4 separate regions of the Homo sapiens genome follow, and all the other regions are linked to region 3. The links come from fine-mapping of genetic effects on gene expression. A gene starts in region 3. Each other region holds a variant in brackets. All regions are shown on one strand. Distances are from middle to middle.

Evidence for each region. PIP is the estimated chance that this variant, and not a neighbour inherited with it, causes the effect.
Region 1: its variant is fine-mapped to the expression of SAMD4A in whole blood (TOPMed, PIP 0.99).
Region 2: its variant is fine-mapped to the expression of SAMD4A in cerebellum (GTEx, PIP 0.96).
Region 4: its variant is fine-mapped to the expression of SAMD4A in monocytes after triphosphate RNA (Kim-Hellmuth 2017, PIP 0.95).

The regions. Positions count from the first base shown.
Region 1 is chr14:54,719,341-54,727,445 of GRCh38, forward strand. All of the region lies in intron 3 of SAMD4A (sterile alpha motif domain containing 4A), which reads left to right. Among named protein-coding and RNA genes, the nearest start is that of SAMD4A-AS1, 35 kb to the left of the region's middle. The variant A/G (reference allele first, on the strand shown) is at 3,656.
Region 2 is chr14:54,695,854-54,703,958 of GRCh38, forward strand. SAMD4A (sterile alpha motif domain containing 4A) reads left to right here. Exons shown (of 13, transcript NM_015589.6): 3 at 6,209-6,727. Among named protein-coding and RNA genes, the nearest start is that of SAMD4A-AS1, 12 kb to the left of the region's middle. The variant A/G (reference allele first, on the strand shown) is at 3,544.
Region 3 is chr14:54,563,837-54,571,941 of GRCh38, forward strand. SAMD4A (sterile alpha motif domain containing 4A) reads left to right here and starts at 3,292. Exons shown (of 13, transcript NM_015589.6): 1 at 3,292-3,502; 2 at 3,660-4,276. The coding sequence starts at 4,081. RefSeq lists silencers at 1,314-1,363, 1,374-1,443, 2,074-2,203, 2,764-2,813, 2,934-3,123 and 2 more.
Region 4 is chr14:54,779,705-54,787,809 of GRCh38, forward strand. It overlaps SAMD4A (sterile alpha motif domain containing 4A), which reads left to right. Exons shown (of 13, transcript NM_015589.6): 12 at 4,833-4,916. Among named protein-coding and RNA genes, the nearest start is that of MIR4308, 94 kb to the right of the region's middle. The variant A/C (reference allele first, on the strand shown) is at 3,465.

The DNA of each region.
Region 1 (8,105 bases), 160 kb after region 3:
TTGAAGGCTTCCTTTGGTGCTGGAGAAGTTTGCTTTTCTTCAAGTCCTATCATTCAAAGTTGAGTCTGACTTTCCCAAATTGTTCCAGCTCTGATCCACAACTCCCAAATCTAGCAATGGAGGCGGCCTGGTTTCTAGGATTGAAGGGAGAATTAGGACAAATGACCCCTTATTTCTCAACATTCCCTTCTTTGTGACACACTGTTTCATTCCAGAACATGTGTTCATGGCACAGATCTGGCAGGGTTGCTAGTATACTGAATGGCAGAATCAAAGTCCAGAACGGTCTTGGGCAATATCAAGCTGTGGTTCAGAGCACACATGGTGGCGTGAGACTGACCTGGGTTTGAGTCCCAGTTCCACTGATTACTACCTGTGTGACCTTGGAGAAATAGCTTAACCTCTCTTGGCCTTGATTTCATCAACTTAAAAAGGAGTACTAAGTGCCACCCATAAGCGGTTGTGAAAGTCCTCTCTGGGTTTACATACAGTCTTTTTCTTGAAGACATCCTTCTATTCTCCTACTCCCATCTGTGTTAGTTACCCTCAGTCTAGCTTTCCTAGTCTAAAATATTTGCTTCTGCAGCTCTAGAAAATTTTCTTGAATTTTCAAAATAATTTCCTCTCATTAATTTTCTTCCTCGCTCTTTAAAGAATTTCAGATTAGATAATAGCTCCTCTCTATTGATCTTCTAATCTCCTTAATGTTTCTTCTCCTATTTTGTTTTACTTTTAATCTTTCTGTTCTACTCACCAGGTGATTCATATAACTTGATCTTTCAAACATACTATGTAATTTTAGATCTCTGCTATCATATTTTCAAATTCCGAGAGTTCTTTTTTGTCTTTTTAAGGTTCCTTTTTGTATTGCATTCTGTTCTTGTTTCATAGCTGCCAAATCTTTTCTAATGTCTCTGAAGATATCACATTTGATTTTTGGAGTTCTCTTCTGCTCCCAATATTGCCTGTGTTTCTTGGAGTTTTTTCTCTTCTGTTTGTGTTGGACTCTGTCTCAAATAAGAAGCATTCCTCAGTTATCTGTTGATTCTTACTTTCCTTTTATTTAAGAGGAAGGGACCTAGAACCTTATGTGTGTAGATTTCACCACAGAGAGATCAGATAGGAACCTAACCTGGCTGTTTTTGTGGGACTCACATATATCACCATCTGCAATTCTTTTCTCATGGACTAGCCCATTACCATTAAAGAAACCCATTACCAGCCTCCTCCTGAGGGATATAAGCCTTACTGCGAGGGTCCTAGGGCCTGTTAGGAGTAAGGTGCTAAGATGACAGTTGCCTTGCTGAGCAGGGTAGAAGGGAGAATCTGAGGATCTCTCTGTACCTTAAACATAAATTCTAACAAACCTATTTTTTTTTCTGCACGTGAAACCCAATGCAAAAACAGGTTGTCTATGAATGGCTTAGCACCAGGTTCCCCAAACCACCAATTTCCAGCCCCTCCCTGCACCCCTGCCTTCAGAGGTACCTGCTCTCCAAGTCCTGAGCTTCATGGAAGTTCTACCACATAAATTGCCATGTTTTCCCTTGCTATGGGCACACACACCACCTTTCTCAGGTCTTCTGAGCCAGTTCCCTCATGTCCTTCTGTCTTCCAGCTTACAACAGTTTGTTGACTTCAAGTGGTCTGCTGATAACCTTTTCATTTCCTGTCATCTTCTCTCCTGCATTCTTTGTCCTCGTGAGTTTGTGCCTTTGCTGTCATTTTTGTGAGTTTTCAGAAGGAACAGAGATAACATTCGCATAAATTGGCAGTCTATTTTAATTGTCTACTTGTTTATTATCTATCTCCCCCACTAGAATATAAATTCTAAGAGGTCAGGAACCTGGTCTTGTTCACCATAGCATTCCATTGTCTAAAACTCTGGCTGGCATATTGTAGATGTTCAATAAATGCTTGTTGAATGAATAAATGAGTGAATGTGCACATCAATGAATGGCATGTATTTAGATCTCTTTGTGTAGTCCCTACGCCCCAATAAATAGTAACTATCTTATCCACAATTATTTCAATTTTGAGGGTTAGATAATGAAACCAAACTTTATGCTACTTAGAGCCATTGATTTTAAGTGGGGATAAATCTGTCTCTCTTAAATAGAAATCTTTAATGGGGAGTGTCTGAAATGCTTTTACCTCTCAAGAGCTTCCTCTTCAAGCTCTTACTTTTCTTGATAGTAATCTTCCCACCATAACTCTCATTATCAATAGGATGTTGCCTATTTCTAATAGTTAAAATGAGGGCTGCATTTGGAAGGTAAGGGGCTGCCTGAAGATCACGTTGCCACATGGAAGAAGACTAGAACTAGAGCTCAGTTCTTCTCATTGGCAATGGTACCTTTAGCCTGTCACTTTCCTTCTCTCGGTTTCCATTGTCTTATCCAGAAACTAGGCTGGAGAGAATGGAAAGATTAATTAAATGATCCCTGAAGTTTTTTTGAGGCTCTAAAATAAGAGATTCTGCTGTTCTGCTTAGTTCTAAAGTGCCAGCAAATAATAAATAACTATCTCTAGGGCCTAGGTCTTAGAAATAGTGACATCCTTGTGAAAATGCCCAGTCTTTTTAAATGACAAATTGGACACTGTATTATAGCATTTTGTAGATAAATGATGGCTTCTAGCAGTCTACATATAAATATCCCATTTGTAAACCTCTGCATAAATATATTTTCATAATAAAAATCACAGAAATAAATACAACCTAAACTGATTAAAAAGATTAAGTATTAATGGTGAAATAAGTCTTTCATGGCGACTTCAGCTTTGGCTGAAGAAGATGTTGCTTTTTCCAGTCCATAAACAATACTTCACATCAATGGTGGCAGTCCCTCTGACCAGTTAGGCAAAAATGAGAAGGTCCCATAATATGTCTCAGGTGGTGGACAGCTAATATGAGAAGGATAGGTATTCAGAGTGCCCAGACCTGGAAAATCCCAGCCCAGAGTGAAGATGTGACAGCTTTGGTTCTGGAACAACCCCACTGGCATACAGTTGTTTATTTGATGTCCTACTTCCTGCTGTGTTTATGCTGTTCAAGCTGTTGTACAAATCTATAGGCCTCAACATTTGGGTCCTGCAATGCATAGCTCTGGTGTTAAATGAGGAATTATCTACTTTAGATCACAGACTTTATTTTTTTACCCTTCTTTGTCAAAAAGATACTGATACGAAAACTAATGACCATTGATATGCTGTGACGGATGAAGACCAAAAACATTAGGGTTCTAAGTCTTAGCGTCAACATCAACTTTGTTAAGTGACCTTGGGCAATTGCCAGATCTCTCTAGGTCTTTGATTCCTTAACTGATAAAATAGCAAGGGGAGTGGATTAGATGATATTCATCTAATCATGTATTTAATGTTTCTTCCTGTTTTAAAGTTCTGGGATTTTGAGTTAACTCGGGGGTAAATACATGAGGGAGACAAATTGCAGTGTTACCTATACCTTCCAGTCTTCTGAAAGTAATGTTCTTGGAGGAAGAGATCAAGAAATGTAGCACCATCATTTAAATTCCCTCAGGACGAACTCTATTGGACACATAAACAATAGCAACAACTTCTACTTTCAATAAAATGTCGGCATTGCTCTCTGCCAATTACCTTGACAGCCTGACTCAAGAATGAAAAGCTCTATACC[A/G]ACCCCATCTGGTACCTTGTGAGTCAGTGTTCATTTCTGGGAGAACCATTCTTGAAGCACAGCTTTTCGTTCAGAGAGACATTATGGTTATCTTATATTTTTAAATAGAAAAAAAAAAAACCCATCTAGGTGTTTCTCTTAGGTCTGCTGCTCCTCCAGCATTTAATTTGAATTTGAAAGATTCTGGTTTGATTTTTTGTGTAGATGCTTGCCTACCCTGCCCTCAGAACACCCACAGAACAGCAGAACCGTAAGCTTTGTGCACCATTTGGGGAAAGCCCAAATGAAAAAGAGATGCTTTCCATGTGGTTGGGCAGGTGATTTCTAATTTAGTTATAGGGAATCTTTATGCTACTCAGAGCCATGAATTGTAAATGATTGCATGGAATAGCCAACTTGCAGACAGGGAAACAATATGTTTACCACAGAAGCAAGAATAGTTTTTTTGACTTTCATATAGATCCCCTGATACTGTCCCTCTAAAATGGAGGATTCAGAGAGGCATCTTGGTCCTGGTGCATTACCACCTCCTCAAAAACTTTCATTAGTCCTAGAAATACTGTGGCAAATTAATTGAAATTGAAATGACCTAAAATTTTTACATCCTTCAGCAATTCTTCACCTTCATGGAAAGTGTTACTTAGAATATTAACACTGCCTTGCGGCTTCTAGCTTCTGCGTGTTTCTGAATGATAGAAGGTGATGGCTTAATAAATGATAGAAAATACTGTTTGCATCTGTGCAGCCTTGTTTTTTATGAATGCTCTTTTTGGCATCAGTATCCCTAGCGACTAATACAGTACCTATGCAGAGAGATGCTCACTGTTCATTACATGAGTGAATAAATGAGGTTAGCTTAACTCTCTGGGAAGTTAACAATTAGCATTTTTTCATTTCATAAAGCATCTTCCCATACATCATTTTAGTTGGCCTTCATTGTCATCCTTCCTAGTGCTTAGCATATGCCCAACACCAGGCAGATGCTCAGCAAATATTGGATGGATGGATGGATGGAAGGAAGGAAGGAAGGAAGGAAGGAAGGAAGGAAGGAAGGAATAATGCAGGACGCATCTATTCATAGGACCCCCACAGCAACCCCGGTAGGTAGGTGGAATAAGGTATTACCATTATTGTAACTATTTTCCAGATGAGCATACTGAGGCCCTGAAAAGCTAGTGGACTTGTTCAGGATTTTGAATATCGATTGTTCAGAGTCAGGGTCAGTAGCTAAGCCCAGAGTTCTTTCTGCCATGAGAAGCAACACGGTGTCAGGCTAAGAACACAGGCTTGCAAGTGAGAGAACCTTGGATTTTGAACTCTGGCTCTTTCCACTGCTCAGCTGTCTGAGCTTTGACAAGTCAGCTATCCTCTGCACCTCAGCTTGCTATCTGTGAAATGGGGGTGGGAAGAGGGTAATGGTAGAATCTGCTTCAGAGAGCATTAAATGAGGATTAAATGGAACAACATGTTTACACATTTAGCCAAGAAGCCGACACATAGTCGGCACTGTCAAATGGTAGCTGATGATATTGTGTGCACTCTCCTGCGGCCTCTTTGGAGGCCAAAGGACTGGGAACAGTGGGCCTCACAGGTGGGTCTTTGGGTTGCATTTGGGAAAACAGCAGTACAATATCCCCAGCTCAGGGCAGGTAAGGAGGAAACAGCAAAAACAGAGTTCATTCATTCAGTTACCCTTCCATGAGATCCTAAATATGCAGGAAAAACCAGACATTAGGAGACCTGGGAACAGGGAAGAACGGTATAATTTGGTGCATTCCTTTCTCCAGAATCCAGCCCTTGTGAACAGCTGGCTTCTTTACCCTGACACCCTAACTGGCTGTTCTACTGGTATCATAAGGCAGACTTTAAAATATGGAGAAATAACGTGGGGACAATAATATCTCATCCAAATGAGCTGGGGTGTGAGAGAGAACCGCACTGCATAAATAGGCTAACAGCATCACAGGCAATTGGCTCTAGGAGGGGCTGAGAGACCATCCACTGGGCTGTAATGTCTTTTTCAACATTGTGACCTCAAGCTTTTAGGGCATGTCACATGGTGGGCACTCCACAAATATCCGATGAATGAATGAATTCATCTGCTCCAACCTCTTGCTTTGCATATGAGGAACCCAATGTTACCCAGACACGTAATAGGTTCTCAGCCTGAATTTCTTAAAATAATGGAGGTACTTAGAATCTTTAATAAGGATTTCAGTCAATCTGTATTGCTTACAAATGTCAGGACAAAGACAAGCTCTCATGAAGAGTTCTGGGCACTGAAATTTAGTGGAAAAGGAGGTGATTCACATCTCCTGACCCTCCATAAAATACACATGAAATGTGGACACTTAAAATGTGTGAGAGGAAAGGAAAAACCAAGTTGAATCTGAATCAAAGAAAAAAGATTCTTACCAGGAAAAGCAGAAGTTTGTCAGTATAGGTGAAGATTTTGAAAGAGCAAGGTGAAGTTTCTCTTCAGTATGACAGACCATGATGGAAAATTTACCTCTTGTAAATCTGTGAAACACTATCAAGTAATCAAGATATATTTTTCATGCCACATGTAATAGGCTGAAAATGCTGCATGAATGTCATTAGATTAGCTAGTACTTTTGAGATGATTTTTCCATTAGCAGTGTTGGTTTATACCAAGTTATTCTTACTCTAACAGCTAACAACTAATATTTCTAGAGCACTTTACAATATGCAAAACATTTTAATGTGCATTAAATGATTAGATTTTTTCCAATAATCACATAACGTAGCCTTTGTTATCTACTAATGGGGAAAACTTTAGGTACGGAAGTACAGAAGGGCCACATGACTTCCAACTCAAATCCCAAATTCTTCTCCCTTCAGCAGTCCGTTTTTGTTTTGGTTGATGCCTACCCCAACGTCAACAGAACAAGTATCAGCCAGCAAGAGCTGCGTATGTAGTTAGAGCATCTTAACCTTGAATGTACATACAAATCTCCTAGGGTCTTGTTAAAATGCAGTTCCTGGTTCAGGAGGTCTGGGGTGAAGCCCAAGAGTCAACCCTTCTAACAAGATCCCAGTTGATGCCAATGCTACCTGTCCATGGATCTAGAATGCAATTTTTTACCATTTGTGAGTTGGTTATGCTCTCACCAGCTGAATTTCCAGACTAAAAGAAAATGTGCCTGGAGCTTTCTGCAGCTGATTCACATTCAAATGGGGCCTGAGGCTGACCCCTGACCCTCTCTTTCCTACTTACAAGGGTGAAAATGACCACAACAAGAGGCAAGCACTATTGCCCAGGAGTCAAAATATTTTTCTGGGGAGTCTTTAGGAATTCCTGCCCAGGTATCATTTGGATTGGAACCCTGGTTCAAAATATCATTTACTTTATCTAGAGAGCAGTGCAAGAGTGATCAACCCTGAGCTAAAGAACCTGAACAGAATTTTGCATGGGAATCCAAAGCAAATAAGATAATCATTGATGGGAAAAGTGAGGGTATGAATTTTGTCTTTTAAAAGCCCCATGAAAACAAAACAAGATGCTCATTCTTTTGAGGCATCTTATTAAGACCAGCAGAAGCAACAGCCAATCTAGGGAGGTTTGGACTGTCCAAGATGTGGGACAAAGTTTGGGGGAAAGTACTGAGGCAGGAAGGCAGCCCAGTGCAGTGGTTCTTGACCCTGGCTATCGATTAAAGCCACCAAGGTGCATCTAAAAGTACAAATGCTCTGACCCTGCTGCAGGGATTCTCAGTGACTTATTCTGGAATGGGACCTGGGCATCGGGGTTTTTTTTTTAAAAGGCTCAAAGGAAGTTAAGTGTACAGCCAAGGTTGAGAACCACCGGTCTAGGAGAAAACTGTGGTAGGTCACAAGATGGAAGGTGGAGTGAAGAGTTTGTATTTACGTGTACAGATAGTCTATTACTCATTCAGGGTAACTGCATTCTATAAAGTTGTTGTGAACACTGAATTATTGAATATTGAATGATTGCTTCTAGAGAAAATACAGGGCTAGGTTCGGTCACATTTTTGTCAACTTATCAATACATAATGTTGTTTTATGTGTGTTTCTGTTTAAAGATAGTTTATTTAATGTATATTATTGATTAATTAATGTTGAACTCACAACAAAGAACACTGTAATTCATACCTGAATGAAGCTTATCACAACAGCCTTCTTTTTTTCCTTTTTTTTTTTTTTTTTTTTTTTTTTTTTTTTTTTTTTTTTGAGGTGGAGTCTCACTCTGTTGCACAGCCTGGAGTGCAGTGGCACGATCTCGGCTTACTGCAACCTCTGTCTCCTGGGCTCAAGCAATTCTCCTGCCTCAGCCCCCCGAGTAGCTAGGATTACAGGCATGCAACACCATGCCTGGCTAATTTTTGTATTTTTAGTAGAGACAGGGTTTCACCATGTTAGCCAGTCTGTGTCCAACTCCTGACCTCAGGTGATCCACCCGCCTCGGCCT
Region 2 (8,105 bases), 130 kb after region 3:
GAATCAGGAGAATCGCTTGAACCCAGGAGGCGGAGGTTACAGTGAGCCAAGACCATGCCACTGTGCTCCAGCCTGGTGACGGAGTGAGACTCCATCTCAGAAAAAAAAAAAAAAAAAAAAGAAAAAGAAAATAGGGGGAGGGTTTATATCTTTTCAATCCTTTGTACCTTTTCAAAACACTACTTGCAGCTGTAAGGGCTCATAACTCCAGACTGGGTTCCCCATCACAACTGGTCTAATCCATACCACTAGCAGGGCTCCCACCAAATTATGGGGATTCTTCTCTGGTCACCTCTAGCTCAAGAGGGTACCTTGGGAGACAAACTCAAGTGCAGGTGCCAACACAAGAATCCCACCATTTGCCATGTTGGTATTTTTGCCCTGATTTTTCAGGTGCCCTGGGCTGAAAAATATCTCTACAAATAAATACATGGTGTGTGTGGTTATCCACTTTTGAGTTGTGCAGAGTTGCACTATATTTAGAAGCTTTTAGTACATGATGTGTCTAGGATTGACTTTGTAACATTCTTCCAAGGAGTCTTTGACCATGTAAAACCCACCAATATTCCTGCCTTTTAGCACATTTATTTCACCAGTACTTCTTCTGTGTGTGCATTTAATTCCTAGCCATTTCTTGCATGAGCAAATTGCCTAAATGCGCTTGTGAGAAACCCTTTTATGGCAAACGTTATTAAACTGAAAACAAGGGTATAATAAAATAGCAATTTAAGAGTAATTTACTAACAACTAGAGCCCTTAAGCATTGACATACCATTGTGTAGCAATAATACCAGACTTGGTATTTAAACACACTCTTTGTCACTCCAAAAATCATTGGGACAGTTTCCTAATCCTCATGGTCTTTAATTATAGCTCTTCTAATTTTTTTTACTACTCCTATGTCACTGGTTTACAAATTATAAATCATTAACTTTTATCCACATTAAACATCCATGTAATAGAACTGTTACATCTCTGCTCCTTATACAGAGAAATAACAAAGAAAATATTCAGAAAACATAGTAGAGGTGAGCTGACATCATCAAACCTTGAAGTTCTTGCACTTAAGTTTTCCACTGTGTCCTGAATCAGGTGATATTGGGGTGAGTAATGGTAGAGACTGGATCTCAGAAGTGATCAATTAATTGAAAATTCTGAGGATTCCTGCATCTTCCCCAGGGAGGAGAATTTGTCAAATGCAAATCTCAGCAAAGATTCTTTGCTCTCTGGAAGATAGTGTGGATGCCACAGAGGCCAGTGGGCAGTTGGACAGGACCTAGCCAGTGTGACCAAGTCCCTGCATGTAGGGTCTGGCTTCCGTTTGAAGGTAGAGATGTTCACGCTTGTCAGCACCCTGGGGATACTCTCCTGAAAGACTGACTCATGCTAACTAGAAAGCAGGGAGGTAGACACTGCAATGCTGGCTGGTTAATTTGCCACGAGGAGCCATCATCAGAGAGACCAGACGTACTCCAAGTCCATATAATCAGCACACATTGTCCTTGTCGGCAGGCCTCCACAGGAAGCCAAATCATAATCAGAAATTATGTATTAAGTTGCCCTGACAAATCATTATCACAGATTTTGGAAATACCTCAAGTCTCTATGATCAGTTCATTCTCTCCTTGAGGGTAGCTGGGGAGCTAAATCATGGTCCAAAGGTTGTTTTGTGAGTGGATAATCAGGACGGGGGCGCTGAGGAAGGGAAATGTTTAGTGGCAACGGGAACTTCATGGGTCCATGCCAGAATGGGAATGGCTTTGCCAGAAAGACTGATGTATTCAAAACCAAGTGGCTAAAACTTCCTTTTACCTAGAGGGACAGTTGGATAGTGTATTAATTAACTTAGCAGCTTAAAACAATAAACATGTTACACAGTTTCTGTGGGTCAGAAATATGAGAGATTCTGGCTTAGGATTCCTCAAAATGGTATGTGGGCTGCAGTTGTCCAAAGGCTTATCTGGGCTAGGAGATCTGCTTCCAAGATGGTTCCCTCATATGGCTGGCAACTTGGTGCTAGGTATTGGCACGAGGCCTCGGTTCCTCACTACAAGGACCTCCCCATTGGGTTGCTTGCATGATGTCACAACATGGCAGCTGGCTTTCCCCAGAGTGAGTACTCGGAGACAGCAAGGGGAGGCCATAATGCCTTTTATAACCTAATCCATAAAGTCACATACCGCCATTTCCCCTACATTCTATTTACTGAAAGTGACTCACTGAATCCAACCTGCACTCAGAAGGAAGGGAATTAGGCTCCACCTTTCAAAGAGGTGTGTCAAATAAATAGTTAACATATTTTAAACCACAATAGGTATAACTTACATTGTCTCTGTAACTCCTTTTTATTATACTTCTGTTGCTCACCAACTGTGATTATCCATGTACTCTATTAATACATTTATATAATGTTTATAACTATTACATATTTGTATGCATTTATATGTAATTCTGTATCATATAACTATAGAACATCTAATTATGTTATAAATATCAATATATTTGGCTTATGGCCACGCTGTTGTAGCAGGACAGCCATTATGTATCTAATATCAAATTTGCCTACCTCCATTCTGCCACTTCACTAGCAGGGGGCTGGGGGCAAGTAACTTGGCCCATTTGTGCCCCTGTGCCTTCATCTGTAAAAGAAGGCTAGTAATAGGACCTACCTCATAAGCTTCTTGGGAGGATTAAGTGAGTAATTAAATGCACAGGGCTTAGAAGAGTGCCTGGCACTTCGAAAACATTCAATACTGTTGGCTCTCAGCAGTGGCAGCTGGAGTAGTAGCAGAAATAGTTTGATCCAGTAGGTGTAGTTAGCCCTCAGAGAGCAATCTGATTTCTGTGTTCCCAGTGGTAGTAAACAAAAGCAATACTTGTCTTCCTGGTCCCACCATCCAAGCCCTGTCCTGAGGATAAAGGGACCGGGGCCAGCGGCCTCTCGTTTTCCTTCCTCTTTGCTATGCTTGTTCCTCCTCTGAATCCCAGGTTAATCCACAGCAGAGAGCGGTTACATGGAGATAACATGTTTCGTTTGTACTATGACTCCTATTTATGTTTTGTTTTTGTTGCTGATTTTTTTTTTTTTTAGGTTGACCTTTTGTGGAAGGGTAGAATGTCCAATCAGGGAAATGACCTAGCAGAAAGCTAGGGAGTTCCTCAGCCTCATGAATTTTTTATTAGAAGTCATTCCTAATTTTTATCTTTAAATGTACATTTTCAAGGATGTACACTAGCCACCTCTGATTACAGTAGGCTTACAGCATAACCCCTTTTGCTTCTTGGCCCCTTTTGCTTCTTTTCAGTGCCTCTTGGGCTTAATGAATAGATTTTATCTTCATGCTAAGCACATTCATCATTTAAAACATGCCTGGTATTTGCTGAAGATGAATTGAGGAGAAAGTTAGAATTGGAATTTTCTTTGCCTCTCAGCGCTACTTTAAAAGGGAGGCTATACCTAGTGGAATGTGTGAGAGTTGTCTTGTGTCAGGTGGCAATTAGCTAAATATAGAGTCAGGGAGCTGGGAGGGACTTGCTGAGGTC[A/G]TCTGTGCCCTCCTGCCAGCCTTCCCCATCTGAATGTCTCCAGCCCTGTGCTCAGCAGCTCAGTAGTCACCAGCCACATAAGGCTTCTAAGCTCTTCAGCTGTGGCTGATCCAAGTTGAGATGTACTGTCCATGATAAAAAATACATTGGCATTTTAAGACTTTTAAAAGATTTTTAAGACTTAATTCAAAAAAAGGAAAAATGGCTCATTAATGATAATGGATAATGAAGTGATAATTTGATTATTTAAATAAAATATATCATTAAAATGTACATTACCTGTTTATTCTGTCTCTTCTTTAATATGGCTACTAGAAAGTTTAGAATACCATATATGGCTTATATTTTATTACTGTTGGACAGTGCTCCTCAAGATCGTCTCACTCTGTTACTGAATAACATTCAGACCCCAGGGCAGAGATTCTAAAGCCTTCCTTGGTGATTCTGAGTCTTTCATTATTCTGGCAATTCTGTTCTTCTCCACGTCCTATCTTAATCTCTCCTGCTTCGGTTTGGAGACTTCTACAAGTAGTTGACTCTTTGGCATCTCCTTATGAAATCCCACTTGAAGTGAGTCAAGCATCTCTTCATATTGTTGTAAGCACAGTAAACCCATTTTCTTTTCACCTTTTGACTTTCTACCTCCTTGATCATTTTTAGTGACTTCTCTTGGGTCATCTCTGGTTTCTCTATATTTTGTTTTTTAAAACTTGGCATCCCAAACCACCCACATTGCTCTAACATGATTCCAGCTATGCAGAGACAAGCTGAAGGAATTACCTCCATCATCAAGTACTTGACCAGCCCTTTTGCTACTTTACGTTATTTAATCCCACAGCACATGGAGGGGCAGATGCTATTTGGGGCTCAGAGAAGGTATTTGGGGCTCAGAGAAGTTAAGTAACTTACCAAGGTTCTACCACAAATTAAATGGCATGTCTGGGATTTGTGTCCAGCTTTGCCTGACTCCAAAGCTCATGCTCTTTCATTATATACCATGCCTCTTTTTTTGCTGGTATTTTTCTTGAAATATTCTTTCCCATAGTCTTGAGAAGCATTGCAGCACAGGCTGATGCATTTGTAGCTTATGGTCAACAGTGATAACTGGGCTTGTTTTGTTATGTTTGCACCTAGCTGGAATTGCTAAGCCCTTCTGCTAAATTCCAGAAACCCCTTCCAACCTTCTAGATATGGCATAAAAACCAGCAGGACTGTCCAGCCCTAGCCCTTGTAGGGTCATCAGTGGGCCAGTGTTGAGATCTCCAGGTGTCAGGAATGACTTCCCTGAAAATGAGCTTTCTTTCCTCTGGCCCAGAGCCTGTGAATAACTGTCAATCCCAAGACAGGCTATTTCTCAAAGGCTAATCAGTGAGAGGGGATGGAAAGGATCCTTCTGAGTGTGTTAAAAACAGATCTTCCCAGAGCTTGAAACTTGAGGACATTATGCTCAGTGAAGTAAGGCAGTCACAAAAGGACAAACACTGTATGATTCTACTTCTCTGTGGTACCTAGAGTAGTTAGAGTTTCAGTTTGAGAAGATGAAAGGGTTCTAGAGATGGATGGTAGTGATAGTTGCACACCACTGTGAAACGGTGAATTTTTTTTTTTTTTTTTTTTTTGAGACCAGGTCTCCTCTGTCACCCAAGCCCCAGGGTACAGTGGTGCAATCACAGCTCACTGCAGCCTCGACCTCTGAAGCTCAAGCAATCCTCCCACCTCAGCGTCTGGAGTAGCTGGATCTACAGGCATATACCATCACACATGGCTATTTCTTTTTTAATTATCTGTAGAGATGAGGTCTCATTATGTTGCCTAAGTTGGTCTCTAACTCCTGGGCTCAAGCCATCCTCCTGGCTCAGCCTCCCAAAGTGCTGGGATTATAGGCATAAGCCACCACCCCCAGCCTGTGAATGTTCCTAATGCCACTGAACATCCACTTAAATATGATTAAAATGATCAATGTTATGTGTATTTTACCACAATAAAAACAAGCTGATCTCTACATAAAGCAAAACAGCAATTAGAGGTGTCTCAGGAGCCAAGTCTTCGGTCCATTGCATATTCTAGCTTTGAGCCCATAGTCACTCTGAGTTAGCTTCTCATGAGAAAGGTGCAGTCTTACTGCACAGAGATGAGGGGAGCTCTTTTTTTCCCTGACAAATTTCTCCATCTAGGAAGTTTTTCCAATTTCACACAAATGCCTTTACCAGGATTTAAATCACTTTCAACAGATGTCTGGGGGAGGTGAAGCAGCCTCACCCCCAGGACTCTGGAATGGGACCTTTGTTCATACTCACTTTTCTATGGAGAGCTTCTTAGTCTTAGCCCCCTGTCTATCAGGGGGTAGGCTAGACCTTTCTCAGAAAGAAAACAGAGCTGCACATTGTATTTGATTGTACCAAAGTAGTTGTAGCTTTTTTGGAAACACGAATGAGAATTTGATTGAGTACTCAATATCTAAGAATGTTTGATCTGTGTTTCATTGGAGCCTCTGGCCCTTGAAAACCTGGGGTCAGTTAACCAATCTGATTCACAGGCTCTTTTGAGAAAATATAGCCAGACTATGTAGATTGGGACCCTAATCCATAAAAATTCTCTTTAGAGTATCTGTTTAGAGTCACTGTGGGTGTATTTGCTTATTTGCCGTGTATATTTCCCTTTTCAGGAATCATTAACCAATGGCAACAGGAATCCAAGGATAAAGTGATTTCCCTCCTGTTAACTCATCTGCCTTTGCTGAAGCCAGGAAACCTCGACGCGAAAGTAGAATATATGAAACTGCTGCCCAAAATCCTGGCTCACTCTATTGAACACAACCAGCACATTGAGGAGAGCAGGCAGCTGCTGTCCTATGCTTTGATACATCCAGCCACTTCGTTAGAAGACCGTAGTGCTTTAGCCATGTGGCTGAATCACTTGGAGGACCGCACGTCGACCAGCTTTGGTGGCCAGAACCGAGGCCGCTCAGACTCTGTGGATTATGGACAGACACACTACTATCACCAAAGACAGAACTCTGATGACAAGCTCAATGGGTGGCAGAACTCTCGGGATTCTGGGATTTGCATCAATGCCTCCAACTGGCAGGACAAAAGCATGGGGTGTGAGAATGGCCATGTGCCCCTCTACTCCTCCTCATCTGTCCCCACCACAATCAATACGATTGGAACCAGCACAAGTACAAGTAAGTTCCCCGGAATCCCTTTAACGTAGTCTGGTTTGGCGATTTGCTGTGTATGTGGCATGTCCTGCTGACAGTGTCTGCTCCATGCACCCTGTGACCCTGGGAGAGAAGGACTGATTGGAATTGGCTGTGGGAAAGGTCCTTTGGACCCCATATTTGTTGCTCTTTGACTCTGCAAAGATGAAAATACTTGGGAAGGTAAAAGTGACTGATGGTCCAAATTTGGGTTATAAACAGACCAAAAATAAATAGACAATAAATGAAAGAAGGAAACTTGCCGTTTCCACAATCAGAAATGCATTTCACCCATGTCTTTCACCCTGGGGTTTTGGATTTGCTGAGACACTGAGTTACTGTGTGATTCTCTAAACCTAATTCTAACCCATGGTTAACCAGGCAGCCTCATGGGCTTTGTGCTTTCTCTTTATTTTTTTTTTCCTCTTTCTTTCTCTTTATTTATTTATTTTTTCTTAAATTTCACCCTGGAATGTTTCCTCCCTTTGCATTTTCTGGTTTTAATCCCCAATTGTTGGGGCACTTTTTTCCTGACCAGTGGGAGCAGGTTTGCTAACTGAGAATGCTGCTGTGTGCTGTGGCCTGGTGAGAATGCCATGGACTTCTCTCGCTCAGTCCAACACCTTAGGAGAGGTGGGTCAGGAACTGCTTTGTGCGTGGGGAGAGCGGAGGACAGCCCTCTGCTCTTTTGACCACTAAAGCAAAGTATTGCACCCTCAGCTGGGCACTGGGGCTGGGAGTCCTCTCTGTGTCTCCCCACTGAGGCTGAGCAAAGTGACAAACACACCATTGGTGTCTGTATAAAGTAGCGGTGTGGAAGTGCACCCTGTCTTCAAACAGCGTTCCTTAATGCTAGTTTGCACCTGTCCATGAATGCAGTGGCAGTGCCAAGATAACTTTCTTGAAGGAATGCTTTTGCAATTAGACCTCGTGTGCCTGTCTTCATGCAGGAACCCCCAGTTAAAAGATATGAGAGGATTAATAATTGGGGTGCCGGCACAGAGACTCAGGCCTGTGATCCCACCACTTTGGGAGGCCTAGGCGGGCAGATCACTTGAGGTCAGGAATTCAAGACCAGCCTGGCCAACATGGTGAAACTCTATCTCTACCAAAAAATACAAAAATTAGCCGGACATGGTGGTGTATGCCTGTAATCCCAGCTACTCGGGAGGCTGAGGTTAAGGAATCACTTGAACCCAAGAGGCAGAGGTTGCAGTGAGATGAGATTGTGCCATTGCACTTCAGCCTGGGCAATAGCATGAGTCTCAGAAGAGAAAAAAAAAAGAAAAAGAATTGGCAGTGATGCCTTCTTGGCATCTGTTCCTACTTGGATCTTTGGTTACCAGGACTCTTTAAATGGCTT
Region 3 (8,105 bases):
AGTAAGTGTTAGGCACTTCTTATTTATCAATAATACTGGGTCCAGGTTGACATAGGAAAAATCCACACTTAATACAATACCTTATATTTAATGAATGTATTTTTTTTTTCCTTTAGAGTGATGACTTCACTCTGGGGAAGAGTGAGGCCACATCCCTGGGTTTTATTTATACTCCCTTTCCTTTGCCCAGAGGAAAGGAATTGTTAACACACAAATACAAGAGTACTGACAGCTCATGTCATGCTCAACTTTATATGTCTTAGAGTGTCCTGAACAGTAAGAATTCAAAAATGAGATAAATCAATGTCTTTTCCTAGGTCAAAGGCTGGTGTAAGAACTACACTTTTCCAGTAGATGGCAGTATTTTCATTCACCAGCTTAAGTTTTGTTTTTTTTTTTTGTTGTTTTGTTTTTAGTTTTACTATACCTTTAGTAAGCTGCAGGTGAAAATACATGTTAATGAAATTTCTGGTTTTTTCACTTTCTTTTAAAAAAAATTCACTCTTGGGAGCTTCCAAAAGCCCTAGAACGACATCTGCTTTGCCTACAATTTATAGCAAGGTATATACCGAAGTAGACCATACTCTCTAATCCTCCCTATTTCCTGATATAAGTTATTACTAAGAATTAGCTAATTCATAGTAATCTCTTGGAGAAAATCTATCAAGCCTTTCTGCCTCTACAGTAACAAAACAAAACAAAAATAAAACACTGACTTCAGGTTTCCTGTTTTCTAAATAGGGCAAAATATTCATTAAATTAAGCGGATACCTCACCTGTCTGGTTAATAATTAACTTTTAAAAAATCCACATTTTTGCAGCTCGACCTCGACAAGACCTTTCAAAAACCCTAACAGATGGTTAGGTGCTATCACGTGTCTGAAACGAACTATACGCTGCAGAAACTAAATTTGAGGAGGAAGGGAAGAAAGCATTTAAATTCCAGGGACATATGCCGGAGTTGGAAAACAAAAGTGTTAATTAGTGGAATAATATCTCAGATACTTTCTCTTCAAAACAGTGGATTAGCAGGAGTAGGAAAGGCTGGGTCTGAAACACGCGTTTCACTGCCTTCTCAGAATTACTCCCGTATAAACAAAGCCTCAAGTTGCTGGAGGGAGCAGTGTTTCCTCTGAAATCACGGAGATAGCCCAGATTTAGTCATCCAGTCCTTCTTGCGAATATTCAACCCATATCAGGAGGTACAGAGGTTTTTAGGGTTTAGGGTATTTTTAACCAAACCTTTACTTTCAAGACTAGCAGAGGCACTTTCGCAGCCCACCCTGCGCCACTCAGCCTCTGCGCTGCGCCCTCCTCGCCTCTCGCGCGGCAAGGACCTGAAGCCCCGGTGTGGCCGCGGCCCTGCGCACTCTCCAGATCCAGGTGAAGGTTGCGAGGCCTGGCGACGCCTAAGCGCTGACAGGTGGCCTCGCCCCGCCTCTTTGTCGCCCAGGGCGGCGCTCGCCTCCGCTCCAGGCCAGAAGCCGCAGCCCGCGCGCCAGGCACAGCTCCCCCGACCGGTCTCAGGAGTTCGGCCACCTCCCCGGGGAAGAGTGGGACTCAGCCAGGCGCCGGGCCGGCCTCTAGGAGCCTGCGCCAGAGCAAAGGGCATCCGGCACCCGACCCGGGCCAGGCCCTTGGACTAGGGCGGCACGGAACCTAGCGCCTGGGCAGGTCCAACCCTGCGCACTGCCCCTCAGCCTCGTGAACCCTTCGCCTCCACGACCCCCGGAACCCATCCCAGCAAGTGCGGCAGTGACCTCGGGTCTCACCGCCCGGGGGCCAAACACCTCGGCCACCCCGGGGCCCCAGAAGGGCCGAGGGTCAGCCGAGCGGACGAACCACATTCCCAAGGACAAGCAGCGGGTGGCAGCACCGCCCCCGCCCGAGCGCCCTCGGGTCCCTTTCTGCCGGGGCTCCAGTGGCTTGAGTGTCCCGACCCCTCCAGAACACGCAGGCGGCCGCAGGAAGAAATTCACCCGGACCCGTCCTCTTCCCCGAACTTCTTCGTTCCTCTCGGAGGTTCCTTCTACCCGACCCCTCTGCGCCACCAGCTCCTCCCACTCCGCTCCCCTCCCCTTTTTCTGGTCCCCACTTAGGAATCCGTCCCCCCGCCCTGCGCCGGGTCCGGGGTTCCTCCCCCCGGCTCCCCCCGCGTGCCGTCGCCGCCGCCCGGGTTCCTCTCCCCCCGCTCGGGCGCTCCCTGCCAAGCCCATGATGTAATGGTGTATGTTAATCAGTAGCATGTGGGGAGCTCCGGCTCGGGCGGCTCAGTCCTCCGCGAGCCGACACTGGAGGCAGCAGCAGCGGCGGCTGCAGCGGCCCCGACTCGAAGCACCGCACTCTCCCCGCGCCGCCCGCCCCGACGGCATGGCCCGCGGCCGGCGCTCCGGGCGCCCCCAACCCCGCTGAGAGCCGCCGCGGCCCCGGACCCGCGCAAGGGCCCCCGAGCCGCCGGGATGAGCCGCGCCGAGGTGAGCGCTCCCTCCCTACGGCCCTCGGCGGGGGACCCGCGGGTCACTGGGGGTCCCCTCCCCGGGGGCTTCCCCCTCCGCCCGAGAAGTTCTGGGAGCCGGAAGCAGCGTGTTGTTGGAAGCTAGCGGCTCCTTGAAGGCTGAGTCGCTGGGTTCTCCTCCCCGCCGGCGGCGGCCACGAGAACCGGGATGGGACTGGGGGAACCCCCGCAGCCGAACTTTCTTTGCTGTCGTTGGGGGGCGTGTGCCTGCGGCGCCGATCCGCATTCCCCGCGGGGCCGCCCCGCTGGCCGAAGGGAGCAGCGCTGCGGACCCCGGCCGTCCCCTCGCGGGGCGTGTGCCCAGCGCTGTGCCGCCCTCGGCCTGCGACGCGCGGGCGAGGCTCCGGGCCGGACAGACCAGCCCGTAGGCGGCGGCGGCAGGATGCCTGCCACACACGCGCGCACACACACACGCACACGCGCGCGCACAGTGACCGCTCCGGCCGGAGCAGGCCCAGGGAGACCTCCCGGGTGGGCTGGTGCGGCGCGGCGCGGGGGAGCCGGGGCTCTGGGTTGCGCCGCCGCCCGCTGGGCGCGGAGCTTTGGGTGGAGAGAGTTTATTTTTGTCTCGAGCTGCTGCCGCGGCTGCTCACGGCCTAAATCCAGAGGGGCGCCTGGCGGTGGAGATGCTGGCTGTTGCTGTAGATGGAGCTGCAGCCGCTCGGCTGCTTCTCTGGGAGGAGGAGGAGGAGTAAGAGGAGGAGGAAGGAACTCGGGCTGCCGCTGCCTCCGCCTCTGCTTTGCATTAGCTCCCACCCCCACCCCCGCGCCCCTTCGCAGCCGCATTGCAAGTTTTCTGCGCGGGGAAGATCTGTTGCTGGTGCTGGCGTTCTTAAGCACGGCGCCCGAGGCCACCCCAGGCGGGCCGTGAGGGGAGCACCAGCCGTTGGCAGCGGCAGCAACAGGAAGCCGCGGGGTCTCCTCCCGCACCTGGGAAGCAGGCTTCTCGCTGTTACCCGGTGGGGAATAGCCCATCTCCCACATCGGGTGCGGAGGGGGCGGAGGGGGCGGCTGGATTTCGGCGAACCCAACCTTCCGCGGGACGCCCCCTCCCCTGGCCCCAGCACCCTCTGATGCCCTCGTCCCCCCAGGGCGCGCTCCTCCGCTAGCCGAGGTCTCACTGCAGCTCTTTCTCTCCTTCCAGTGGTGATCGCCGCTCGGGAATGCGGGCGTGAAGGGTCCGAGTTGCCGCCCAGCGGGGAGGAGACCCCAGGACGCCGGAAATCACCATCCCAAAGCTGCAAGAAGGGGGGAGAAAGCATTCTTCATTCAGTTGTGTGCCTTGTGGGGGATTTTTAAAAAGTCGTTTTTTTTTTTAAAGAAACATTTCCGTGCTACTGTCTGTCATCGTCTCTGGGGAAATCAGCCAGAACCACCGGAACGTAACTGAAACCAGACAAGAGAGGCAGGAGCCCAGGCAGTACCTGCAGCGTCCGGGCACCAGAGCCACCTTGGAACAGGAACGCGTCTCCGGCCGCGGGGCTGCGGCTCCGCCAAACTTTGGGGCGGGCGGGGCGGGCTGGGGCGCCCAGGGGGCTCTGTAGACCGAGGGCGGCCCCCTAACCATGATGTTTCGCGACCAGGTCGGGGTGCTGGCGGGCTGGTTTAAGGGCTGGAACGAGTGCGAGCAGACTGTTGCGCTGCTGTCGCTGCTCAAGCGCGTGAGCCAGACCCAGGCCCGCTTCCTCCAGCTCTGCCTGGAGCACTCGCTGGCCGACTGCGCCGAGCTGCACGTCCTCGAACGCGAGGCCAACAGCCCCGGTAAGTGTGCGGCGGCCGCCGCCGCCGTCCCGCCTGCCCAACCCCCGCTCCTCCCTCCGCTTCTCTGCCTCGGGCCAGGCCGAGGCCAGTCCCTGCCAGCCGCGCCGGGACCTGGACGGCGTGGCCCCGAGGCCCTCGGAATCCACCCCCTCCGGGTGTCCCCCCACTACCGCCCCCCACCTACTTACCTCCGCCGGCCGCTTTGGGATTTTGCCCACTGTGAACTCCGTCAGCCCTTTCCGTGTGGTAGCTACGGTAGCATGAATGATTGATTTTTCTCTCATGCAGTTTCCTGGGAAATAAGTAAGTCAGGTCACGTAGAGTCTGGATTTTCTGGGTGTGTGTGTTTTTTCCTTCCTCCTCCTTCTTTTGGGCAACGTGGCTCGCTGGATTTCAGCAACACATGATAGATGCCCGGGACTGCCCTTCAGAAGCCAAGCTTGGATAAGGCTGTGTGAGGAGTACATGAAAATCCAATTTTATTATTCATTTTTCCCCACAGATATTCTGGTTTTAGAGCTTCGTCTTCAGAATAATATGCAGGTGACGCTAGAGACTAGTAAAATGACATTTGCAGCATATATATATATATATATATATATATATATATATATATATATATATATATAATGCGGTTAAGCTTACTGCTCGTGACATTATCCATATTGATACGGATCTTGTAGAAAAAAAGGGTCTTGGAGAAAGGACAGGCATGAAGTGGGTTACTTAATGCTTTTCGTTAGGAAACTTTACTGAATAGAACAGAATCGTTTCATATTACCCTGCTAGTATTTACAGACACCTCAACTAGTATGGAAAGTGAATATAGTCGAAAGGTCCAGCAGTTTCCTATTTGCTAGCGTGGGTGGTGACAGACTGAAATTATATCCTGGAGGGTAGGAGGAGGCTGGGGGATGGGGGGAAAGTCTGATGGTTGTGATTTTGGATAGGGGGAAATTCTTTAGTTCATGCTGCTGCAGGAGGGTGAACAGAGTCCCCAGTGTTTATGCAGAGAAAAGAATGCAGGGTCCTCTTCCAGCTGTTCCATGTTGGAGCTGCGAGCCTGCAAAGCTCAGCAGAGGTCTGGGCTGCCATTTGATGACAAGGTCCAGTCCAGGGCAGTGGGGCCTGGGAGACACTAAAGTGAGTGTGCCTTCAGAGCAGCAAGAAGCGAGCCGGCCTACTCATTCCTCCTCCCTAGTATGGTGTGCACGATGGTGAAAACACTAGAATGGGATGCTTCCATATATAGAATCATAGGGTGGAAGTGACCGCTGGAAATCTTCACAGTTCTTTTCCTGACCAGACAGGACTGCACCCGAAAGATCCTGCATGGCCAAGTATGGAGGGCCACATTGAGGGAGATTCCATTGAGCCCGAGCCTCCCAGCTCACACCAGGACTCACTGGGGTGGCGATGACAGGGCCCCCTTTGGTTGAGCTCCACGTTTATAAATAGCTGGAGGGCCAGCCTCCTTCACTGGGGTGTGGAAGCATAATTGGGTAACTGATGATCCACCCTCTTTGCTTCCTTCCTTAATTTCAGCGGGAAGCCTGGTTTACCTGCTCGGTTTTACTTTCTCAGGTTTGACAAACAAGGTTATATAAACTTTTGCATTTTATAGATTGCAGAGGATTTACGCAGAGTCATTTAGGTTGAATGCTTGATTTCAGTGCTGGTAGGGACTGTTCAAACTCATCTTTAGGTTATTCAAATGTTGGAGCAGCACTTTTTCCCTTTGAGTAATGGAGATGACTTTTCCCAATAGAGCAGCCACCAGGTTAGTAAGTAAAACAGTTAAATGTTAAAATAAGGTGGCCTAATTTTAAAAATCTCATAATTTAAAAAATTGAACTGTGAATTTTTTGAAGTCACTTGGCATTTTTTTTCCCTTAAGACATGTTTGGCCATACTTATTTGTATAAGATACCCACCTGTTCATGCTGCTAAATGATGTAGATATACAAAATATAGAACCATTGTGTAAGATAGGAACTGGTCTCCAGTTTCTGGATTAATCCTTCGCCTAGACGTTTTGCCTGCATGGAAATCTTTGCAGTTGTTTTGTTGTGTGGCCAGGACAGAAATTTCTTAGGAGGTCATGTGATGATTTGGTTTACTTTCGGAGTGTGGGGATCATAAAGAGCATCAGGAGTTGTCATAGCATACCTGAGTCTGTAGTGTGGCTCTCTGCATATCCGGAAACTAGCCAAGAACCAGGAAGGGGGCAAAAAGTCCACTTCGCAACCAGAGTAGATAGCATGAAAGTCCAAGAGAATATTTCAGGCCCTCTCTCAGAATGTACTTGCTCTTATTCTAGACACAATCCTAACATTTAAAAAATTTGACAAATAATCCGTAGTGTATTGGGGGTAACACATTTAGAATGGGGTGAGGGACTGCTGTAATCAGTAGTAAAAAGTGACCCCTGACAGCCTGACAACTTGGAAAGAGACAGAAAAACTGTAACTTTAGACAAGAATTGGGGCAGAAACTTTGAAGGCTTGGGAATATTAGGGTGGGAACCCTCAATTGACCTTGTAGGCACCACTCTATAATAACATAAACAAATAATTGCTATTTACTGTTGTTAACGGTGAACTATGGAAATAATACATTTTTAGATACACTCTTTAAGAAGAGAAGGAAATGTTCAATATACTTTGGAAATGTTTACACCCAGAATAATTAACCTCTGAGCTGTTTTGATGTGTAAGGCTCTTACCAATTCAGAAAACTAGGCTGTGCAGAATGACTCATTCATTGGATTGCTGAGATTTCCTGTACCGAAGTCATCTTGTATCACTTTATTTTGTAATCATCAATTTAAAAAACCCTCACATTTTGTCTAGTGTTTAGAGATTTTAAAACTTGGTAAATGGGAACCAAATTCATATATGGGACTCGATCTCAGTATAATAAAAAAAAATTACTAGTAATAGTATGAATATATCTCTCGTTTTATGCAGGACTGATTTTAAATAGTGAGATATCCTGCGCATTAAACATGATTTATTTGAGATTTGTGGGATGTAATTTGGTGCTTTCATTCTCTTAAATTTATTGAGAATCTAGTGATTCACTGGTTCATCCTTTGCCTCAGGCTCATGGTCATTGGAGATTCCAAGAAATGATTGAATCAGTCCCTATGGATTTATTTGTATGTGTTTTTCTTTTAACAGATATGGTCATGATCAGTTCTCTAGTACAGTCTTGTTCCCAGGATCCTTATAACCTTAGATAAGTCTCTTCAGCTACTGCTCCAGTTGAACATTGAGACTTCTGGCCAGTCTCAGTTCCAGGACTAGCAGGTCATTTGATACCTACAAGTAGCAAAAATGCAACCCACTGACTTTACCTGAAGTTTCCAAAAGAAAAATAGACTTTGTGGCATTGTTTATTTATGGCTTTTGTCACTTGGACTTGAAATATATTTTTCATAGAGATTTATAAGTTAATCCACAAAAACGTAACCCACAAAATATACACTATTTGTGTATGTTTGTGGTAAGTAAATGACAATAAATTCCTATACTTATAGTTAAATACAAGAGAAAAGGGTATCCAAAATGGTGATGTTTGAGACAAAAAAATAATTGTGGAGCTTGAAGACTCTCTCTCAGAATGTAATTACTCTTATTCTAGACACAATTCTAACTTTTTTAAAAAAATTGATAATCCATAGTGTATTGGAGGTAACATATTTAGAATGGGATGAGGGGCTGTCACCCTCACCCCATATTTGTGTAAACTTGCTGTCATTAGAGGGTGGGTATGTTGGTTCCATGATTTTTATGGTTTTGGTTTCTGTAGTACAAGTATGCCATCC
Region 4 (8,105 bases), 220 kb after region 3:
GAGTCTCACTCTGTCACCCAGGCTGGAGTACAGTGGCGCAATCTCAGCTCACTGCAACCTCCACCTTCACATGGACAAGTTTTAGCTGTTTCCTGGGACCAGCCAGGAGACCCTTCAGGTGGCTATTGCCAGTGATGAGTAAGAAACACTACGAGGTGTAATACGCTCACCAGAAAACAAGTGTGGCGCCTGTGCGAATGGTCACGTTCCTCATGGAGGCAGGGCGTTTTCTCAACTAGATAACTGGTTTGGAAATTGCTTGGAGAGGGATCCTTTATTTTGGAAGCAACTAATTTCTACTGACCCAGGCTTAGTTGTCCTTGGGATCCAGTCAGAGAGGATCTTGGAGTGGCCCTGGCTCAACAGTAGGAGATCATGGAGGTTCTTTACCCCCTGGAGGGCCTAACAGAAAAGGGCAGGGAACCCCATAGCAGGCTTCAAAGGAAAACCTTCAGAAGGGTAGGCTGCACAGCCTTCTGAAAATCTCATTCTTCCCTTGCCCAAAGCCACATGCAAACTACCCTTGGTTGTGAACCAGCTGGATGTGAGCTGGGTCCAGTGGCACCTCACATGGCAGCATTTCATGGTGTGACTTACCTGATCACCACAGCAAACCTCCTCTAAGTACCAGCTCACAATTGGGATTCTTCTGCCATAAGCACGCTGCATATATCTGGGAGCACAGGGCTCCAGGCTGTTATTTTTCATTTCCTTCCGGAGAACTGCCTTTAGAAAGAATAGAGAGTTATTGGTGCACTGGGTCCAGTGGGGTGTGGAAGGGGCTGCCATGCAGAGGCAGAAACCAGAACAGGGACCCAAGTACAGTACTGGATAAATATTTCCTCCATGTCTTCTAATAAATCAAGGCAGACATCCCTGTTCAGGACTGGCAGACAATGGGTAGGGAGATTGATAAATAAATCAATTCTGTCATAGCCAAGAACCCAGCTGGGCCCACAGCCTCCTGCCTCTGAGCATCAACTTGGGGCAAGATGGTACAATATCATCTTATACCATGTTGTACCCATCACTTTTTGTGAAAGCGTTGGTCCCAGAGGACCTCCACAGGCACTGACCTTCTGCAGGCTTAGGAATGTTAGGAGGCCACCAGAGAAAAGGTGCGTTCCCATGGTCAACTCAGGGATGCTATTCATTACTCCTGCCACCCTCCATGGCCATCTCTGCCATCCTCAGCTTGCCTGCTGCCCCACCCCTCTGTTTCCCTGCCTGTGCCGTTTCTTTCCCTTTTGTTACCATCCTCCCCCTTTCTTCTTAGTTCTCTTGTCTTCCTTTCTTCTTTACTCATCTCATCACAGCAGACCAGGTCCCACTGCTCTGTCCCTTTTTGTCTTCCCTGCTTTCTCTCCTCCTAGCAACCCTGCTGCTCAGTGAACCAGACTCCACACCTTTCTAGTTATCCAACAGAGTTGCCTCCGCTGTCATTGGCAAAACGGGATTCTATAGATTTTTCCTGGAATGCCCCAGCCTGTTTCTTATTCTAAAGTCCTAAAGAAATTGGCTCCTTACCCTCAGTGCCTTGGAGAAAAAGCACTGCAGAATTGCACCGTGGGTGCCACACATGTGAGACCCAGCAGGGATGGACGGTTACTGCCAAGGACAAGCCCTTTGGGCTCCTCAGGTGGATGCTGCAGCAGCACCTCATTAGGGATGGGTAGCATTCTCTTCCGGAATCTTCTTGACCCTGGGCCTGAGCACAGGACTACTCCATACGTGTGGGACTTCTGAAAAGATACAATTAATGTCTCAAGTCAGCCTAGACCTTGGGGATTCCAAAACTAGCGATCCTTACTGAATACTGGAATACTGGTCCTCAGAGATGCCATCTGAGCTGAAGAAACATGCCTCCTTTGGGAAAGAGCAGAGGAGGCTCAGTTAAAGAGGGGTCTTTCCTTTTGCCTTCCTGAAGACTCACATCTCCATCTGCCTGGTCTGTGGCCACGAGGGGCAGGGGCCTGGGATAAATGAGATGGGCCCTCAGGGTTAACAGGAGCCACAGCAAGGGTTGGCCTGGTGGTTTATGTTGGTCTGTGGGGCAAGAGCTGCCCGAATGCCCCTCTGGGGCACCTAGCCCCATACAGCTGAGGGTTCCTAGCCTGAGATGGAAGCTGTTTTCCACCCAACTGGTCTTTCTGTCTTATACGTGCGGCGAGATGGCATGGATCTGTTTTTATCAAATACACAATTAAAAAGTCACACTATTAGGAAACTCTGCAGTGTGAACATATGGGCTTCTCCCAAGACTTAGAATTTTTCAGAGCCACTCGGAGTGTTGGGGGTCACGGCTCCCCAGTGCATGGAAGCAAAGAGCTGGGGAGAAGAAGCGAACACCCCCACTTCCCACCTAAAAGAGCAGCCACGAAGGTTTGGGGATTCTGGAGCGGAGAGCCCTGCGTTTCTCAGCCCCCTTTTTGGAACACGCAATCCCAGGCTTGGAAAATGGCATTTTGCTGCGTGTTGGCAAGAAATCCTGCAGCTGAAACACTTCTCTCCAAATGTCGAGCATCTTTATTTATCCAAATCTCTCCACAGTGTTTGTTTAAAGGGGAGCGCTGGAGAGTAAACTAAATCTTACAATGAGCATATGGATGGCTATAATTGCTGAGGTTTGTTTTTTTTTTTCATATTTGCTAACTCGCTATATATAAAATTGTGTTTCTATTTTATAGATTTCACACCCTGAAGACTGCTAATTTTTGCATGCATATGATTTTCACATGAATGGATGAAAATACTAAAATCTCTTCCCCCTGGAATTGTCTAATTGCCCCGACCCTACTCTAACAGCAACTAGTGGGTGGGGGCGGTGGAGACTCCTGCCATTCTCTGTGGCACCCCACTTCCCTGGAAGCTCAGTCGGCCTCCGTCTGCTCACGTATTGGCACGGTTGTCTTCCAAACCCATCGATGCCGGAACATGGGTCAGGAAGAACACAGTCAGCTCTCTGGTGCTTTCCATAGCGTTCCTTTTTGCCAGGCTTCTGAGATTTTTAAATAACGGAAGCAACATCTGCCTCTGAATTAGCTGACAATGGGAAACACACATTGCAGAGATTATCTTAATGTATAGCAAATCAAGGAAAACAAAACTTTGACTTAACCATTGGTTTCAGCTTCCTATCCCACCAAGCCACCAACTTCGTTTCACTTCTCTTTCTTCTCTCTCTGGCCCCATGTGCTCCCTTGGTGGAGACATGAAGGAGCAGGCAAGTGGCCTGCAGGGGGACCCCGGGATGCTTTGCCCACTTGACAGGTAGAGGAGCTAAGGCCCTCAGCATGGAACAGGTTCCCAGGCTCACAGAGGAAGGTGGTGGCAACACGGAGACTTCTCGGTCACCTGGAACACACCCCGCTGTGGACACCCCCTCTGGGACTTTTTTTCTGCCTCTCCCCTTAGGATTTTGCAATTCTTTTCAAACCAGTGTCACAAAACTTTAAAAAAAAAAA[A/C]AAAAACAAAAAGGATTTCACAACTCTTAGCTGTCAGAGTTTCCTTCTACTTCTTCTACTTTCTCTTTTTCTTCGCTCAGTAGACATGTATGAGGCAGAAGGCCAGGGCTGGGCGCTGTGGGAGATTCAGAGAGATAGGGAAGCATCATCACTGTCTACAAGGCACTTCCAGGTAGTTGAGGACATTTAAAGTCGCCACTGGATGAGGCCTGCGGAGGTGCTGACAGTGAGGGCTCCAGCAGGTGAGAGGAGGTGGCTCCCAGACACTGCCTCCTGCTCACAAGAGGCGACATTGGAACCTGGGGAGATAGAGGGGTTCCAGGTGGTAGAGGGGAGATTGTGGTGAGAATGTGCACAGCACTGTCGGTCAGTGGGAGCCGAGCCCCTACTGCCTGCAGAGTGGGTGTCTCAGCCCTTGATTCTAGAGGCCCTCGAGGCTGAGTGTGTTGACAGTTACCTGCAGTTGCTGTGGCAGGTGGCTGAGCCCCGGCTCTGGAGTCAGAGAGGGTCTTGTCCCAGCTTTGTGTTAGTTGGCTAACTTTGATGAGTGACTTCACCTCTCTGAACCCCACTTGGGCTTGTTGGGCAGATTAAGGAGCCCGCACACCTAAAGCCCCCCACGTGGTCTCACACTAAGAGGTGCGTGCTGGGCCCTGGCTTTCCTCTCCCACTCTAGATGCATGCCAGGCCCTGCTCTAGGCACAGGGGGCAGAGCCATGTTCTGCTCCAATGAGGTGAGCACTCAGCGGGGTCAGGGGAGGGGGACAGTAGAAAGTGAATACAAATATCAAATATGACAGCTGTGGGCGAAGGCTATGAAGAAAAATAAAGCAGGGGAAAGGGATAGTGTGGGGGCATGGCTCATACAAGGAACAAAGTCCTTTCCAAGGAGATGATAGAGCCAGAAATGTGAAGGCAGGGAGAGCCATGGAAACCACCCCAGGGAACAGCGGTGCAAAGGCCGTGAGGTAGGAGGGGGCCTGGGGCAGAGCAGAGGAAGGAGAGAGCTGTATGAGGGTACAGAGATAACAAGGGCCTGGATCATGCGGGGCCTTATGGGCCAGGGCAGGAGGTTGGCTGTTACTTTGATGGGAGGCCGCTGGAGGGTTCTGAGCAGAGGAGGCACAGACTGTGACATGACCAGCTATTTTTAGTCTCCGTTTTGTTCCAGGTTCCCAAGTTCACAGTGGACTGTGTTTAACAGACCTTAGAGGTTGGTTGAGCCTGAGTGGAGCCCCTTCCATGCCAGCGCTGACAGTCCCCAAGTCCTCCCAGGGAGGTACACCAGACCTTTCTCCTGAAGGTGGAACCAGGTGGCACCCTGCTTATCTCCTCCTTGTCACCAACATAACCCTTTATCGCCTGCAGAATTCCAGCTTCCCGTGACCGAACCTGACATCAACAACAGGCTGGAGTCGTTGTGCCTCAGTATGACCGAACACGCCCTGGGAGGTGAGTGTGTTCTTCCTGCATGTCCCCATGTCCCTGTTACCGTGTGCCTGGGAGAACTGGCCATCTGCTGTCTATACCGTGGCAGGAGCTCAGGAGAATTGGGGGAGGACAAGGAGGGGTAGGCAGGGGACAGGGAGAAAGAGTGGCCTTAGGGTACTGTTGGACCATTTTCCAGCGGCACCATGCCAAGTGGCCAGTGCCCTGTTTCTCCTCCTTTTCTGGGAGGTGAGTCAGGGACCTGGCAATCAAAGCTGTCCCTCTGTCCCCAGAAGCTCCACCTCCCAGTGCACATGGGAATCACACCACAGCAGTTGTCCCAGCCAAGTGCCAGGCCTGGAGGAGTCAGGGACATGAGACATGGCTTTTAGTAGGAATATCCCGCACAACACTGGATGCTTCCCTTCTCTGCACTAGATCCCCCAGCCTGGTCCAAGCATAGCCCAGCTTGCCTTAGAAATATAATTTTTGAAAAACAGAAAACCCAGCTTGTTTGTGTATCTCCCAGTTGCAAACAACTTTCTTGACACCTGGAGCCCAAAGCAGGCTGAGGTGTCCTTTCCTGTGTGACAGGGACAGGTTGAGTTAGAGGCGCCTGCACGTCCACTGCCCAAGCCCAGAATGGGGGCTGTGCTGTGCAGGGCTGTGGCCCCACAAGCAGCTCACAGAAGCATCTGTGCTCCCCCGTGTGTTTGGCTGGAAGCCATGCTTGGTCACAGCAGCCCTGGGAGGCCTTCAGCTCCCTCCTGGTACTAAGCGGGCACCTTTCTCTGGGCCTGGATATTTATGATGCTTGGCAGGCAGAGGAGAGAAGAGATGTCTGCCATTTCCTGCCAGCTTCCTGGGAGGCTCTGTGCCACAGAGACACAGAGAGGCCTCCTGTGAGCCTTTCCAATAGCCCTATCCAGTCTACACTTGCTCTTAGCCAAAAGGCCGAGAAGCGATAGCCCTATCCAGTCTAGACACACTTACCCACCCAGAGAAGGGCTGTCTGCACACCTAGAGCCAAGACGTGCGCCACCTGGCAGTGGTGGGGAAAAGACTGCCATCCTCTGCTGCTTCAGAGAGCCTTGTCCTCCAGACCTAAGGTTGTTAGATTTTTAGTCTCTGCAAACACAATCTTATCCTGAAACCAAATATGAAATAGATCAGTGCTCTGCATGGAGCAGAGTGGTGGGCCCGGGACCACACCCACCTGACCTTAGCATCAGGGGGAGCTGAAAGCCTTCCAAGGGCATCACAGAGCTTCACCAAACAGATGGTGGGAAGACACAGCCCCTTCTGTGACTTCCCCCAGAGCTCTATAAAGAGCCTCATTTGCGAGCCACTGCTCTCTGCCTTGGCCATTCAGATCTCAGGAACATCACTGGGCCATCCCTGGTACCTCTGGCAGGAGGTGCTGCCAGCTCATCTTTACCTCATAGAGGAGACTGGGTCAGCAGCCCCCTAATGAGAAATGGGAGACAACTCAAATGTCCACCAAAGGATGAACATGGCTCAAAAAAATGTGGTGTATCCAAACAGTGAAAGAGCATTCAGCCTTTAAAAAGCAAAGAAGTACCAACCTATGCGATGCAGTGGATGAATCTTAACATTATGCTGAGTGAAACAAGCCAGGCATAAAGGACCACAGAGCGTATGATTCCATTTATGTGAAATGTCCAGGATAGACTAATCTACTGGGACAGAAAGTAGATGAGTGGTTGCCAGTGGCTGAAGGGAGGAGGATGCAAATATTCTGGAATTAGATAGTGGTGAGGGTTGCACAGCTTTGCAAATATACTAAAAACCACTGAATTGTATACTTTCAAAGGGTGCAATTTATGATATGCAAATATTTCAATTAAAAGTAGTAATGACAGTCTCCCTGGGGCCAGAGTTAGGATAGCAGCTGGTGAGTGAGTCCCCTGAGCTGGCACCTGCCAGAGCTCTGACATGGGGAGGGAAGCCCCTGTGCTCCCCTGCTCGACAGTGGCCAGCTGGGTGGGGGACTGACTCAGTCTTTCACTGCTTTTGACCAAAGAAAAAGGAGAACTGACCTTTTCCCCCAGGGCTTGATACATCTCAGACAATTGGCATTTTGGAGGCTCATATCAAACTGCTAAGTACCAACATTATCATCATTAGCAGCAAGAATACCAAATGCTCTTTATTAAAGGAAGGTTTTCATTGAAAAGACTTCGTTTTTTTCAGTCTGTTCTGTTTTTACAGAAAACCTCTCTGAACCGATGGGTTTTTTGCTAATGTTTTCATCTTGTTAATCTCCTAAGCTTTTTTAGTGCTGTGTTTTTTCCCAATGATCTCCTCTGGTGGGAAGCCTCGTAAGCAGTTTCCTGAGCAGAGAATGCAAATTAAGTTCAGGGTGGCCTAGTTGGGCACAGTGGCAGTGTGCCCTCCCAATATGACAGAGCTTCTCTGCTGGCCAACCCCTTCCAGGTGCCAGGAAAGATGGCCTTGCTGGAGACAGTATGCTAATGAGTCAAGTCCTTTTATGGGAAGAGGAACGGGCAGGGAGAGGAAAGCACAGTGAAAGAGGTTCCAATGCTTGCAACTCAGGAATGGAGAAAGAGAGGCTCACATCTGTTGGCCTCTAGGATTGGTGATCTGACACCACTGACACACTCAGGGACCATTGCTTCCTTTCTTTAAAATCTCCCCTAAAATCATACAGAACTTATATACAAGTGCACTGGGTCTGTTTGGACTATTACTTACAACAGCATGTGAACCTACAGTTATCTCAAAAGTTTCAACTGAGGAAGTGCTTCTCCTCCAAGGCCCCACTGGCAAGAGTTGCCAGCCTGGCTCCACCCACAAGGAAGCCAGGAACCAACCCCCTGTGGTGGCCTCAGCACGCCTGTCACTTGGGTCCTCCAGCTTTCCCTGGAACACACTGCCACTCCCTTCTCACACCCAAGTTCTGCCAAGCAAATAGAGATGCTGCATCTGGTGGACCAGTTCTGTAATATTGGGGCTTGGACTGGGACATCAGCAAAGCCAGGGAGGCACCCCACAGCCCTGTCTCACCCACATTTAGTGGTCACTGAACGCAGTTATTCCTACCGCCTGTGATGGCTAATCCATGCCTCTCTCTGCTCACTGGAAAAAATCCTTGTCAGTTCTGGCACAGACTGTTATAGGGGCCTCTTAACTGGTCCACCTGCCACCAGCCTTATCCTTCCTCAGGTTATC